Linked DNA regions of Homo sapiens. Each later gene encodes a partner of the first gene's protein in a complex. Each region holds a gene or a part of one and is shown in the gene's direction. Other genes may lie near its edges.

Region 1 (7,757 bases):
ATTTTGTATAGCTTTTTACAAATGCAACAATGAAATTCTGGAAGTCTTAACCCTCTAGATTACTCAAATTCAAGTCAGCATCTCTCAGAAAATATCTCCCCTCAACTTCAGTTTAAATAAAAGGATAATTTTAGGTTGTCATTTGTATAGCTTTTTTGTTAATGTTTTACAAACATAACTGGCCAGGTGTGGTGGCTCACGCCTGTAATCCCAGCACTTTGGGAGGCTGAGGTGGGTGGATCACCTGAGGTCAGGTGTTTGAGACCAGCCTGGTCAACATGGTGAAACCCCATCTCTACTAATAATAGAAAAATTTGCTGTGTGTGATAGTGGGTGCCTGTAATCACAGCTACTCAGGAGGCTGAGGCAGGAGAATCACTTGAACCTGGGAGGCAGAGGTTGCAGTGAGCCAGCACCATGCCATTGCACTCCAGCCTGGGCAACAAGAGCAAAACTCCATCTCTAAAATACAAAAAAAAAAAAATGAAATAAAAACATAAGTGTAATATGTTTGAAAGAACAAATTACGGCCGGGTGTATTGGCTCATGCGTGTAATCCCAGAACTTTGGGAGGCCAAGGTGGGAGGATTGCCTGAGCTCAGGAGTTCGCAACCGGCCTGGACAACATGGTGAAACCCCATCTCTAATAAAATACAAAAAATTAGCTGGGCATGGTGGCACGCACCTGTAGTCCCAGCTACTCAGGAGACTGAGGCAGGAGAATTGCTTGAACCTGGGAGGCAGAGGCTGCAGTGAGCCGAGATTGCATGACTGTAGCCTGGGCAACAGGGCGAGACTCCGTCTCAAAAAAAAAAAAAAAAAAGAACAAATTATAATCACTTAATTTTTTTTTTATCAAATAGCCAATGTCCAGTTTTCCCCATTGTCTCATATTTTTTTACAGTTTGTTTAAATCAGGATCTAAATAAGGTCTAGTATGTTTTAATAGTCTATATTACAATTGGTTCATATGTTTCTTAAGTCTCTTTTTCTATGAACTTACGGAAGACATTGAAAAGTCTCTCTTTAAAAATAAAAACTTGTTCTCCCTCTCCCTCTCCTCTCTTCTCTCTTCTCTCTTCCCACAGTCTCCCTCTGTTGCCGAGGCTGGACTGTACTGCCGTGATCTCGGCTTGCTGCAACCTCCCTGCCTCGGGCTCCCATGATTCTCCTGCCTCAGCCTGCCGAGTGCCTGGGATTGCAGGCATGCGCCACCACGCCTGACTGGTTTTTGTATTTTTGGTGGAGATGGGGTTTCGCTGTGTTGGCCGGGCTGGTCTCCAGCTCCTGACCTTGAGTGATCTGCCCGCCTCGGCCTCCCGAGGTGCTGGGATTGCAGACGGAGTCTCTCTCACTCAGTGCTGCCCAGGCTGGAGTGCAGTGGCGTGATCTCGGCTCGCTACAACCTCCACCTCCCAGCCGCCTGCCTTAGCCTCCCAAAGTGCTAAGATTACAGCCTCTGCCCAGCCGCCACCCTGTCTAGGAAGTGAGGAGTGTCTCTGCCCGGCCACCCATCGTCTGGGATGTGAGGAGCGCCTCTGCCTGGCTGCCCCGTCTGGGATGTGAGGAGCGCCTCTGCCCGGCCGCCACCCTGTCTGGGAAGTGAGGAGAGCCTCTGCCCGGCCGCCACCCTGTCTAGGAAGTGAGGAGAGCCTCTGCCCGGCTGCCACCCCGTCTTGGATGTGAGGAGCGCCTCTGCCCGGCCGCCCCGTCTGGGAGGTGAGGGGCGCCTCTGCCCGGCCACCCCATCTGGGAGCCTTTCTGCAGGTGTACCCAACAGCTCCGAGGAGACAGTGACCATCGAGAACGGGCCATGATGACGATGGCGGTTTTGTCGAAAAGGAAAGGGGGAAATGTGGGGAAAAGAAAGAGAGATCAGACTGTTACTGTGTCTGTGTAGAAAGAAGCAGACCAAGGAGACACCATTTTGTTCTGTACTAAGAAAAATTCTTCTGCCTTGGGATGCTGTTAATCTATGACCTTACCCCCAACCCCGTGCTCTCTGAAACCTGTGCTGTGTCAACTCAGGGTTAAATGGATTAAGGGCGGTGCAAGATGTGCTTTGTTAAACAGATGCTTGAAGGCAGCATGCTCGTTAAGAGTCATCACCACTCCCTAATCTCAAGTACCCAGGGACACAAACACTGTGGAAGTCCGCAGGGACCGCTGCGTAGGAAAACCAGAGACCTTTGTTCAAGTGTTTATCTGCTGACCTTCTCTCCACTATTGTCCTATGACCCTGCCACATCCCCCTCTCTGAGAAACACCCAGGAATGATTGATAAATACTAAAATAAATAAATAAATAAAATAAAAACTTGATTTTGACATAACTTGAGGCGTACTTAGAAGTGGCAGAGTTCAAGCTGGGCATGATGGCTCATGCCTGTAATCCCAGCACTTTGGGCAGCCAAGGCAGGTGGATCATCTGAAGTCAGGGGTTTGAGACCAGCCTGGCCAGCATGGCAAAAGCCTCTCTCTACTAAAAATAAAAAAATTAGGTGGACGTGGTGGTGTGTGCCTGTAGTCCCAGCTACTTGAGAGGCTGAGGCAGGAGAATTGCTTGAACCGGGGAGGCGGAGGTTGCAATGAGCTGAGATGGTGCCACTGCACCCCAGCCTGGGCAACAGAGTGGGACTTTGTCCAGAAAAAAAAAAAAAAAAAAGTTGCAGAGTTCCTGATCTTAAAGTTGTCATTTTTCAAATTTGTAGGTTCTATCCATATCCTTCTCTTTGTATATATCATTTTAAAAATCAGGTCATTTGCCTGTAGGATTTCCCATGTTGTCAAAAAGAGTCAAACTGAAAAATATTTTAAGAGATTCTGAACCAAATATGAGTGACCAAGGGCCAGCGACACAGCCCTTAGGAGATCCTAAGAACACGTACCCAAGGTGGTTAGGCTACATACATTTTTGGAAGACATAAGACAGTCAATACACGTAGATGTACATTGGTTTGGTTCAGAAAGGTGTGGCAACTTGAAGTGGGGGGGCTTCCAGGTCATAGGTAGATTCAAAGATTTTCTATCTGGCAATTGGTTGAAAAGGTTAAGTTACTGTCTAAAGACCTAGAATCAACAGAAGGGAGTTTTTAGGTTAAGATAAGGGTTTGTGGAGACCAAGATTTCCATTAAGCAGAGGAAGTCTCCAGGTAGCAGGCTTCAGAGAGAATAGATTGTAAGTGCTTCTTATCAGAGTTCTCCCTGAAGCAGGAAAAAGACCTGGAAAGGAACGGGGATTCGCTACAGAATGTAGATTTTCTTCACAAGGGACAGCTTTGCAGGGCTATTTCAAAATAAGTCGAAGAAATTTAATGTGGGGTAAAGTACTTCCATTTCTTCCAAGGCTTCCTATCTGTCATGTAGTCCTATACCAGAGTCAGGCTGGAATTTGGCGTCATTGCTACAGAGTCTACTTTGTCAACTTCAAGATCTGTTTTTGTTTTGTTTTGTTATTTTTTATTGAGATGGAGTCTCACTCTGTTGCCCAGGCTGGAGAGCAGTGGCACGATCTCGGCTCACTGCAAGCTCTGCCTCCCGGGTTCACGCCATTCTCCTGCCTCAGCCTCCCGAGTAGCTGGGACTATGAGCACCCGCCACCACGCCCAGCTAATTTTTTTGTGTTTTTAGTAGAGATGAGGTTTCACTGTGTTAGCCAGGATGGTCTCAATCTCCTGACCTCGTGATCTGCCCACCTTGGCCTCCCAAAGTGCTGGGATTACAGGCGTGAGCCACCGCACCTGGCCACCTCAAGATCTGTTTTAATGTGAATGCTGGTCAGCTGTGTGCCTGAATTCCAAAAGGGAGGAGGGAGTGAGGTATGTCTGTCTCCCCCTTCCCATCACTGCCTGAGCTAGTTTTTCAGGATAACTTGGGAATGCTCTTGGCCAAGCGGAAGGGTCCATTCAGATGGTTGAGGTTTCGAATTGCTGACTGTATCCTTGTAGAATCCTTTAGTACAGTCTTGTCTTCCACATTTCCAGTAATTCACTCTAGAAGCTTGTTCACATTCAGGTTAAATTTTTTCTGGCAAGACTACTTCATAGTGTTGTGTACTTCTGATATCTAACTGACCTTTTTGCGATGTTAATTAGCAGTCATTGATGACATTGCCTAGGTCCGTTAATTCATAGGGTGATGTTTTAATCCTACTGTTTCTTCTTCATTTATTAGCGGGAAAACTTCTATAATGAGAAATTCTTCTCATGCAGTATTTGGTTACTCTGCTGTAAATTTCATAAAGGCAGGACAAATGCTTGATGCTTTCCTTTTATTAACCAGGCCACAAACTGGGGTGAGCTTACCAGCATCCTCCAAAGGTGAACAGAGTTAAAAAATACATTATTATGAATTACAGACTGGAGCATCTGAGGATTTTAAATTCACTCGAATTCCTGTTCTTATTCATGCTCAAATCTTCTTTTTTGGCAATGAGAACCGCTTCAGTTTCGCTTCTATGTTAGCAAGACGTTCATAGTCCTTGGTAAGTTCTTTGCTGTCGGATACGTTTCCCCGCACGTTTCTTTTTTTCAAGAAAACTGGCTTCTTTAGCAGGAACCACCCGCCTCCTCCTGCGGCTCCGCCCGGATCCCGGAAATCCGCTCGGCTCCGCCCCATCCAGGAAATGCTTGCGGCCCCGCCCCAATCCCGTAAGCGCGCGCGGCCCCGCCCCCAATCCCGGAAGCGCGCGCGGCCCCGCCCCCGAAAGTCGGCTCGGCTCCGCTCCAATCCCGGAAGTGCGCGCGGCCCCGCCCCCGCCGGTTCGCGTCTCTCTGCTGCGGCGCGGGGACCGCTGTGCTCTCGGTAGGCGGCTGGGCTGGGTGGGCTCCGCACTTCCTTCCCGCTCCGTGCCGCGCGTCCCGGCACCCTTAGGCCCACTCCGGGAGGGGTCTGCGTCCTGGGCCCGCCTGCCGGCTGTTCCGTGTCCCGCCGTGCCCGTCGCGGGCGGCCTCGCGCCTGTTCCGCTGCAGGTTGGCCCCGGCGGCGGGAGCGCCCCCGATCCGGACAAAGAAACGAGCGCTCGGTGCGACTAGCGGCGCGGGCGGCTTTGCCAGCGCGCGTGTGCTTGTGTCCGCGAGTGTGCGTGTGTGTGTGCATTTGGATGTGGAATGCCGGGTGTTTCGGGAGCAATGAGGCAACTGAGGCCCGGGAGGGAGCCCAGTCATATACCAGCATCTAGGATTGGTTTGTGTGATTTGAACCCACTATTTTTTATTTTTTTGAGACACGGTCTCACTCTGTCACCCAGGCTGGAGTCCAGTGGCACGATTTCTGCTCACTGCAGCCTCCACCTCCCGGCCTCAGGTGATCCTCCCAGCTCAGCCTCCTGAATAACTAGGACCACAGGCGTACACCACCACACCGGGCTGTTTTATGTATTTTCTGTGGAGACGGGGTTTCGCCACGTTGCCCTGGCTGGTCTTGAACTCCGTGACTCAAACAATCCGCACGCCTCGTCCTCCCAAAGTGCTGAGATTACAGGCCTGAGCCACCGCGCCCAGCCTGAACCCCCTACTTAATGTCAGAAATTTGATTTGACTTCACAGGGAAAGCCCTGAGAAACTACCAGAACGGGGTCCCTGGGGCCAGTGTTGGGAGCGTACGGTGAAGTGGCAGGGCTGCTGCGCCCGTGCGGAACTCCGCTGTGGAAGATTAGCCCCTTTGGTGACTCGTCGGTTCTGGCCGCTTTGGGACCCTCTACTGTGCAGTCTGAACTTTCAGCAGGTGGAGGAGGGCAGAGAGAGAGCTGAGATCGTTGGTCCATGCCAGTGCGAGAGCCAGTACGGCCGGAAGCCATGATGGGACTTTCAGTTCCTTTCTTGGTGGAGGCCAGCACAGGGGAGAGGGGGTGCCCACAGATGCTAGAAGCTTAAAGGCTGCTGGGGGCTAGCGGCCTCAGGACATAAGGTTTCCAGACAGGACGGGGCAGGTGGTGATGCAGCTGTAGCTCGTGAGTCTGAGCGGGAAACAGCCCCCGCGCAGTCGGTGTCGCTGTGAACGGAAAAGGGCCTTCCTTACACAGGAAACGGGGTCTCTGGGGGATCCAGTGACGTGCCCAACCACAGAGACCAGGTGAGACTGGCTGATGGTGTCTGGGGCTGCAGGTGACTTAGTTGGGGGACCTGCTCTTGGCCTCCAGACTGGGCCTGATGGCGTGGGCGCCTGCCTGTGTGCAGGCCCAAGGGCTCAGCTGCCTCTGTCTGTTCCCAGACCCCTCCTCCTGTAGAGAGTGGTGCTGCCCTCTCGGGATGTACCTGCAGGTGGAGACCCGCACCAGCTCCCGCCTCCATCTGAAGAGGGCTCCAGGCATCCGGTCCTGGTCCCTGCTGGTTGGTAAGGCTCTCCACGTCCCTCCCCAGAACCCCAGAACCGGAAGCCTGACTTTCAAAAAGGATGAAAATGAAACAAAATATTTTCTCTTTTTTCTATTACCTTGAAATCTAATGGCTATTTTGTTTCTTTGTATCCATTCAAATTCTATCTGGTGTACTTGGTTTTACAGATAATGCATGTCTGTTTTGTCCCCTTTTAATCACTAACACCCAGCGTATTTAATATACTCTATGAGCTTTTCTGAGGTCACCATATTTTCCTTTGTACTTGTTTTGAACCACGTGATGGGTGATCGTGGGTTCCCATGTCTCCTCCTCCCTGGTCCTCAGACCTCTTCGTAGGACTCACAGTCCACTAACCACGTGATGGGTGATCGTGGGTTCCCATGTCTCCTCCTCCCTGGTCCTCAGACCTCTTCGTAGGACTCACAGTCCACTAACCACGTGATGGGTGATCGTGGGTTCCCATGTCTCCTCCTCCCTGGTCCTCAGACCTCTTCGTAGGACTCACAGTCCACTAACCACGTGATGGGTGATCGTGGGTTCCCATGTCTCCTCCTCCCTGGTCCTCAGACCTCTTCGTAGGACTCACAGTCCACTAACCACGTGATGGGTGATCGTGGGTTCCCATGTCTCCTCCTCCCTGGTCCTCAGACCTCTTCGTAGGACTCACAGTCCACTAACCACGTGATGGGTGATCGTGGGTTCCCATGTCTCCTCCTCCCTGGTCCTCAGACCTCTTCGTAGGACTCACAGTCCACTAACCACGTGATGGGTGATCGTGGGTTCCCATGTCTCCTCCTCCCTGGTCCTCAGACCTCTTCGTAGGACTCACAGTCCACTAACCACGTGATGGGTGATCGTGGGTTCCCATGTCTCCTCCTCCCTGGTCCTCAGACCTCTTCGTAGGACTCACAGTCCACTTAGCCTCCCGTCCTCCATCGCTACCCACCAGTAGGGTCCTGTACCCTTGGGGACAGCTGCACTTGTGTTGACGGGACACCGTGTGAGGAGTGGTGCTGGCTGTACCTCAGCAGCTGGGGCCCACCTTTTTTGTGACACGCCACAGCCTCCTGTGTGTTTTGCATGACACGCTGTGTTGTAATTTCTTTGTGCACAGTCTTCAGGCCTCACCACGTGCTACTGGAGTAACACCCGTGTCAGTTATGGAGCCTCACACAGCAGATGTGTCTAGTAAATACTGTGAATAGCGTATACTGTGTTTTGCTTTTGTTTTCTTTAGTAATGAGGTCTCGTTATGTTGCCCAGGCTGGTCTCAAACTCCTGAGCTCAAGCGCTCTTCCTTCCTCGGCCTCCCAGGTAGCTGGGATTACAAGTGTGTGATACTACGCCCAGCTATACTGCATTATTGAACCAGCTTCCTGGCTGTTTCCCCTACTCTGAACCTGGTGGTCTGTAACCCCTG
Region 2 (7,886 bases), on another chromosome or scaffold:
TTCTTAATCAATCACCATCATCATCATGGTCATATCAATTGCTAAACATGTCCTGTGACTATGTGATAGTCCAGGCATCAATCTAAAATCTAAAAAGATTTGTGCTTTACAATCCACAGTGAAAGAATAAACAAGGCAATGCTTTAAATAGAGTTTTTTTTTAAATTAATCTTTTCTTTATATCAACTTGGATATAATTAGGCAAAAATTGGGAAAATATGTGTCATATCTAATATCAGTTTCTCACAGTGCCAAATTAATTAACTAGAATAATGGTGATTAAACTCTATAGACTACTTGATTATTGCAGAGGAATATAATTTTTAATTTAAGCTTTCAAGAATAAATCTTAGACTGCAAAATCAGGGAATTTTCTGGATTTGGGTCTACTTCTCTTCTCTCATTTTTTTCTCAACCAGAGATGTTTGGGATTTCAATCACAAGTGTGAGGATATTGGACATTACTGCATAATGGGTATGGTGAGTACTTCCTTATGTTCACCACAGTCTAGTTTGCTACTAACAGCTTAGGAGAGAATGAAAGCCAATGAGGGTGGGAGAAGATAAACTGTTAGCTAATGCATACAGGTTCAGTTTTCTTCATCTCCATGTCTAGTCAATGCCTTTCAACTAATACCTGTTACTCTTTCATCAAACTTTCTGCCTGCCTTTCTAAGAGCAGTGCACATTACATTTTACTTAGCCAGTGTTCTCAAAAGGGAAGTTAGTAACTTTCTGTAAAAGAAAGACTTTACTCTTCATTGCAACTGATCTCTCTCTCTCCCACTGTAAAACTGATTGAGGTGCTTAAGGTTCTCAAGAAATTGCTACTCATAGCCCTGTGATTACTTTTATAAAGGCGGGGGGGAGGGGAAATCAGTAGAATGGAATGGTTGATTACTCAGGGAAAAGATTCTTTCTTTTTTGAATTTTCTTCTCAAATTATGGAGGGAAGGAAAGGGAGTGGGAAAATGTTCAAGAAATAAGTTTATGTGAAACTGGGAATGTTATTTCCTGGTATATGCAGATTAATGATCCCTTTGTCATTGCCTCCCCAGCAGAGCACAGGCTTCAGGAGGCAGGTGGAAAAGTATGAGAAAGGCTTGAAAATTTAAGTGGGATAAAGGAAGATGATCCAATAGGCAGAGAAAGAGAACAGTGGGGATAAGTACAGAGGAAAAGACTGATGAGTTCCAAGAGCTTATGGTGAAGCAGTCATCTTTGTAGAGGAGTTTGAGAGTGGCAGAGATGAGGAGAGAAAGTGGATTTTTAAATATGTTTTATTTTTCTTTGGGTATAAAGGCCTCACTTCTTTGAATACATGAAAAAAATAAGTACAGATATGAGTAACTTTTTTGTTTCAGTCAAAAAACAGAAACCACTGTATTTCAACAGGGGGAATTTCATACCAGGAAATTTGTTACATGGATTATGGAAAAGTAGAGAATCCCAACATGGGGTGCAGAGGCAACATAATATAAAGATGAACAACTACAGGAAGTGGTTACCACCCTAGGGGTTAGAGGGAAACTAGGAGGTGGTGGTGTAACTTGAGTTCAGAAGCCAGGGCCACCTGGCAGAATCTTGAGCTACAGTGGTGATGGCTAGGACTAGCTCATGCCACAGGGGGAGAGGCTGACTGGTGAAAGTTGGAGCCTCAGTGCAGATGCAGCCCCTTCATGGATGCCACTTAAAGCAGAAAGCTCAGGGAAGAAACACTATGGCTTATCTCCTGCTATCCATTCTCCAATTCAGCTAAACATACTAGAAGCCAGAGGGCCAAGGAGCCTGGCAATACAATTTTCTCTGAAACACAGTAGAGCAAGGAAAGTGGGGAATAGACCTGAGAGCAAGAGGCAAATAATTGGCACATGTTTTAATTGTCTAAGTGTGTTTCTTTGAATTCATCTCTGTGTGGAACAGAACCACGAGACTAACTTCTCTTTATGTGGTTTACACATGGTCTAAGAGCCATAGCATTCTAAAAAGTACCTTTCCTTGAATATTAAGAAGTGAAAAACACTACTACTTTGCTAATTATCGTAATTACAGAAGCTTCCCAAGTAGTTCATGGACAACAATCAAAAGAGTACTTATGTCTTTTTTTTCCTTCTTTTGTTCCCTTTCACTCCTCCCATTTCTTTTTTTTTTACCTCCATATTAGCTATAACTGCTGTACAACTACCCTTGTGCAATTAGTCAATATTGATCTCATAATGGGGTTACTATCCTACCTTCCTGTCTCTTTCATGTCTTGAAGAGTGGGTACCAACAAGGGAAATGATGCTACATTTAGCTTTTGGCATCTACCATATCTGACATATCTTTGTGCTGACCCTGTTTACTCACTTAGCATATAGGATGTCATGTTTGCCTGGAAACATGATTGCCATCTAAACATTTTGGTATATTTCTTGTATTTTGTCATGTTTTCCTATAGTTGTATGTGGAGTGATTTAATGTAGGGTTTTTAGTGTAGGCATAGTAAGGCTTTTTTCTAGTATCTTGGTCAAAAGTATAACCAAATTTCTTGGGTTTTAAATCCCAACTCTACTATTTGCTAGTTATGTGAACTTGGCCAAGTAACTGAACTGCTCTGGAACTCAGTTTCCTTATCTGTAAATATAATCATAATAATAGAATCTGCTTTACAGTGGTTGAGTTGTGAGGATCAAATGAATTGATGTGTGTGTGTTTGCATGTGTGTCTATATGTGTAATACACACATATATGCAGTCATATCACTTAACTATGGGGGATTTGTTCTGAGAAATGTATCCTTAGGTGATTTTGTTGTTGTGTGAAAATCATAGAGTGTATTTACATAAACCTGATGGTATAGTCTACTACACGCCTAGGCTACATGGTATAGCCTATGGCTGCTAGGCTACAAACCTTATCGTTTTTTATTGTACTGAATACTGTCAGAGATTCTAACACAATGGTATCTAACCATAGTTAACCATAGAAAATAGACAATAAAAATAAAGTATAAAAGATTAAAAATGGTACACCTGTATAAGGCACTTACCATGAGTAGAGCTTGGAGAACTAGAAGTTACTCTATGTGTCAGTGAGTGAGTGGTGAATGGATAGGAAGGCCTAGAACATTTTTGTACACTCCTATAGATTTTATGAACACTGTACACTTAGGCTATACTAAATATGCAAAACATTTTGTTTTTTCAATAATGAAATAAATTTAGCTTACTGTAACTTTTTATTTATAAACTTTTGCTTTTTTAATTTCTTGACTCTTTTGTAATAACCCTAAGCTTAAAACAAAAAAAATTTTACAGCTGTACAAAAATGTTTTAATATCCATATCTAGAAGCTTTATTCTGTTTTTAAATTTTTTATTTTTATATTTTACCTTTAAAACATTTTTGTTAAAAGCTAAGACACAAACATACACATTAGCCTAGGCCCACACAAAGTCAGGATCATTAATATCACTGTCTTCCACCTCCACATTTTGCCCCACTGGACAGTCTTCAAGGGCACTAACATGCATGAAGCTGTCATCTATGACAGCAATGCATTCTTCTGGAATACCTTCTGAAGGACCTGCCTGAGATTCTTTTACAGTTAACTTTTTTATAAGTAGGAGTATACTCTAAAATAATGATTAAAAGTATAGTCTAGTAAATAAATGAACCAGTAACATAGTCATCTATTTTTACTATCAAGTACTATGTAATGTACATAATTGTATGTGCTATACTTTTACAACTGGCAGCTCAGTAGGTTTGTTTACACCAGCATTGCCACAAACACATGAGTAATGTGTTATGCTACAATGTCACTAGATGGTAGGAATTTTTCAGCACACACACACAAGTATATATATTATATATTATATTATATATTATATATATATGTATATATATATATATATATATAGAGAGAGAGAGAGAGAGAGAGAGAGAGAGAGATGGAGTCTTGCTCTGTCGCCCAGGCTGGGGTGCAATGACACAATCTCGGCTCACTGCAACCTGACTCCCAGGTTCAAGTGATTCTCCTGCCTCAGCCTCCTGAGTAGCTGGGACTACAGGTGCCCACCACCATGCCCAGCTAATTTTTGTATTTTTAGTAGAGACGGGGTTTCACCATGTTGGCCAGATTGGTCCCAAACTCCTGACCTCAAGTGATCCACCCCACTCAGCCTCTCAAAGTGCTGGGATTACAGGCGTGAGCCACCGTGCCTGGCCAACACCATTATAATCTTATGGGACCACTGTCATACATGTGGTTCATCATTGGCCAAAGCATCTGTATTTATATATGTATGTTTCAAATTATATATATATATATATATATATATATATATATATATATGATAGCTATACATGAACATACACACACACATATATAGACATATATAGCACATAAAATTGGCACATATTAAGCATTTTGTAAATATCAACCATTACAATTGTTACTACTTTTCTCAGCAAGGCTATGAATGCTGTTCCAGCCTGTCAAAATCACACCTGTTTAATGTGTTTTACCCAGCACGAAGTCATGTCTAGTTGAGTGGCTTAAAAATTGTGATCAAATAGCTGGTTAGTTAAAAAGTTATTTCACTGTGTAAAATACATCCCTTAAAATGCACTGTTATTTATCTCTTAGTTGTAGAAATTGGTTTCATTTTCCACTATGTTTAATTGTGACTGGATCATTATAGACCCTTTTTTTGTAGTTGTTGAGGTTTAAAGATTTAAGTTTGTTATGGATGCAAGCTTTTCAGTTGACCAATGATTATTAGCCAATTTCTGATAAAAGAAAAGGAAACCGATTGCCCCAGGGCTGCTGTTTTCATTTCCTCATTGGAAGAAGAAGCATAGTATAGAAGAAAGGCAAACACAACACATTCAACCTCTGCCACCATGGGGAACTGGGCTGTGAATGAGGGGCTCTCCATTTTTGTCATTGTAAGTACCAACAAGAGATAAGTTATAAATTCTCTGACTTCTCGGGGTTATCTTGGAACTAAAATAGACCAAAGCTTTTTTGTTCATTTGAGGAATTGTGTTGAAACTGATTTACCATGTGAACCTATATCTATCTGTAAACAGACTGAGTCCATTCTTCCAAATTCCTTAATGGAAAGAACATATCTGGGGGCTCACTTCTAGCTTACTTCTGAATTCCTAGGAGGAATAAATTAGCCAGCATTTCGCAGAAGGAGTAGAAAATATTTCATGCTAATGATCTCTGATTCTGAGTTGTTTAGTAATGTTTACTCAGACGCACATGTCTATGTGTTTATACTACTTTAAAAATGACAAATTGAAATTTTATACCATTTTCTAAATAAAAAATATAAGATTGACTCATGTATGGGAAGTAGGCCTTTATTTCAGTAATTACACTAAATATAATAAAACTTCTCAAATTTATTTTCAAAAACAAGTACCTTCTTTTTTCAGAGATCTAAACTTGAGTTATTTATAAGATTTATAAAAATTCAAAAGAACAGAATTGAAATAAGTCATCTAGATTCATAAATATGTAGTATGTATATTTATATATAATTGTATATATATATAAATCAATATAGTCTGGAGAAACTATGTAAGTAAAGATATAGCTAATTTACAAGTGGACAGAATGATTTCTGTACTTTTTAAAACAAAGAAAATCAACTGTTCTCTTAAAATGGTGTTATCAGCAAAGCAATAATGGACAAATTGGGTAGATAGAAATACGATTTTTAAATAGCCTTTCTAAATAACCAATAGAAGCATTACACAGATGTTAAAAAGTACAATTATGAATGGAATATGAATGGAGCTTTTGTAAAAATTTATCATGAAAAATAATGAGTCTTTGAGTTTTAAATATAGAAAGCAATTAGTGGCACAAATAAAAACAACAAATATTTTGTTATAAAAAATGTTTACGCCAAACCAACATTCTACTGCAACAGAGAATTCTTCCGAGTATTCGAAGCTGTAAACTTAACTTCTTATCACCATTTTTAAGGGCAAATAATTTCTATAGAAAGTAAGTTCAAATTAAACTTTTAGCTCTCGCCACAATTTTTCCCAGGAAATGACCTCCTTCTAAATTATATACTCATGCACTTGAAAGTGAAAACACAGCTTGGAAAGTCAGAGTAAAGAAAGAATGACAAGATCAGGAAATTGGGAAGTTGCTTTAGCACTTTTTTCTTTGTAAAGAGAGAATATTATCAAGTGTCTAGAGCATATAATAGCTTCAAAGCATAGTTGAGAAAAGATCACTATGGAGCTGAAGGTAGAGAACTGGGTAGTGTGACCACTTGATCCAGTCAGTGCTTAGGATAAAATGAACTGTCATGATCTAGAAAGCTGTTTTTGTTGTAAATCCCAAGCCCCTCACTATGCTCAATATTCTCTCCTTGAAGCATTAAGTAAAACTAATCAAGGAAAATGGAAGGCTTGGCATTTTAGCTGATGAGAATTCACTAGCTGGATTACTGTGTGGTAGAGGGAGGTGATTAGCACCTGTGAGAACAGAACGCAGTGTCATACTGGTGGAGGGAAAGCAATAGTAATATGTTCCCTTCCTTTCTCATTTTAAGTGGAGTGGCCTGCTATCAGCTACCTATCCAAGGTTAAGCAAAAGAGAGGGGAAAAAAAGGGAGTGGGGTAATGTAAGACTGATAATTTGGTATACTGGCCAAATCATAAAACAATCATGGGGAACAACACAGGGTGGAGAGGTTTTAATTATAGACAAGTGTAGTGACACTGTTGAGGAAAGAGCTGGCTCTAAGCTGGTTATATCCAGCTTTGTCACTACCTTTGTCAAAGTTGGACTTGGGGAAGTCCTGACCCTTATCTGACTCCAGTCTTGTGTGGAATCTACTGTGGAAATGCGGAAACTTCATGCAATTATTTCTGTTTGTGCAGCTGGTTTGGCTGGGGTTGAACGTCTTCCTCTTTGTCTGGTATTACCGGGTTTATGATATTCCACCTAAGTTCTTTTACACAAGAAAACTTCTTGGGGTAAGTATAAATTCCATCCCATGCAATATTGGCTGGTTCACATTTCTCATCAGACATTCTTGTTCATCTTCCTGTTAGCATTTTAAATACATATTCTGACCAACCCAAACAGTACCATTAGCCTCACTCCCTCCATTGCAACTTCCTGGGCAACAGTCACTTAAAGCCTTCCAGTCTGGGACCAACAAAAGTGGGGCAGAGGGCCCCAGTGGCATCCTTCCCCAACCAAGAACCATGTGCCATTGTTTAGCTTAAAGGAGAAATCTAATACTCACTCTGAAATGGAAGGGCAGGTTGGAGCAATCCATCCAGGAGTGACACATGTGGGACAAGTGGGACTTTCCATATTTTCTAAGTCACCTAATTCCTAGTACTTTTTTGCATGAAGAGCTCTGCTCCTAATCACATGTTATGAAATGATCTTCAGAAAATAAATCTCTCTCTACATATAAAGACTCGAGGAACTTGCTCAAGGGCCACATCTGTTGACTAGGACAGTAGAGTGAAGGCCCTTCAGTTTCCTTGGGTCCTTTAGTATTCTGAGTTTCCTTGAACTGTCAGGCCTCTTGCCTCCAGAAGACATCTGTTACATCATGCTGAAACTATGAATTAATTGCTTAATATTAATTATTATAAGTATTATAAATCATAAATAAATAATTTTAGCATATAATTATGCTAGATCATTATAATTGTTGTTAGCTTATTCACATTGATGCTTTCTCCCGCCAAAATATGCAACTTCTTTAGACATTACAAATATAATAATTATAATGCCAAAGCATTATACCATACCAATTTAAGATACTGTTAAGATCAATTTAAGTGCTAAGAAAATATTTAAAATCTTTAAAAGTCTTGATACTTAACTCTAGTTAATGATATGCACCT

Evidence for each region. The genes of interacting proteins can lie anywhere in the genome.
Region 2: the proteins of CYBC1 (region 1) and CYBB are in contact, whole or in part, in a cryo-EM structure (PDB 8KEI), measured with the Homo sapiens proteins. Residues at the interface, in NP_001028218.1 of Homo sapiens: Arg22 (codon at 6,311), Leu26 (codon at 6,323), Ala37, Ser41, Gly42, Asp43, Trp47, Phe50, Tyr51, Phe57, Gln61, Asn62, Glu64, Lys77, His97, Asp98, Gln99, Val100, Val101, Val102, Leu103, Arg108, Ser111, Glu115, Val117, Arg118, Tyr119, Phe120, Arg129, Ala131; in NP_000388.2 of Homo sapiens: Trp28 (codon at 6,936), Asn74, Leu75, Leu76, Ser77, Phe78, Leu79, Arg80, Gly81, Ser82, Ser83, Ala84, Cys85, Cys86, Trp206, His210, Phe212, Pro266, Met268, Trp270, Lys271, Ile273, Tyr280, Tyr324, Phe326, Lys328, Leu335, Glu336, Trp337, His338.

What each region holds. Positions count from the first base shown.
Region 1 is NC_000017.11:82,447,745-82,455,501, reverse strand, and holds the start of CYBC1 (cytochrome b-245 chaperone 1), read left to right. Parts: upstream 1-4,749; 5' UTR 4,750-4,802; exon of another isoform or gene 4,803-5,022; intron 5,023-5,247; exon of another isoform or gene 5,248-6,071; intron 6,072-6,209; 5' UTR 6,210-6,247; coding exon 6,248-6,332; intron 6,333-7,757. UniProt on the Homo sapiens protein: Functions as a chaperone necessary for a stable expression of the CYBA and CYBB subunits of the cytochrome b-245 heterodimer. Controls the phagocyte respiratory burst and is essential for innate immunity.
Region 2 is NC_000023.11:37,775,189-37,783,074, forward strand, and holds the start of CYBB (NADPH oxidase 2), read left to right. Parts: upstream 1-4,870; 5' UTR 4,871-4,889; coding exon 4,890-4,934; intron 4,935-6,899; coding exon 6,900-6,995; intron 6,996-7,886. UniProt on the Homo sapiens protein: Catalytic subunit of the phagocyte NADPH oxidase complex that mediates the transfer of electrons from cytosolic NADPH to O2 to produce the superoxide anion (O2(-)).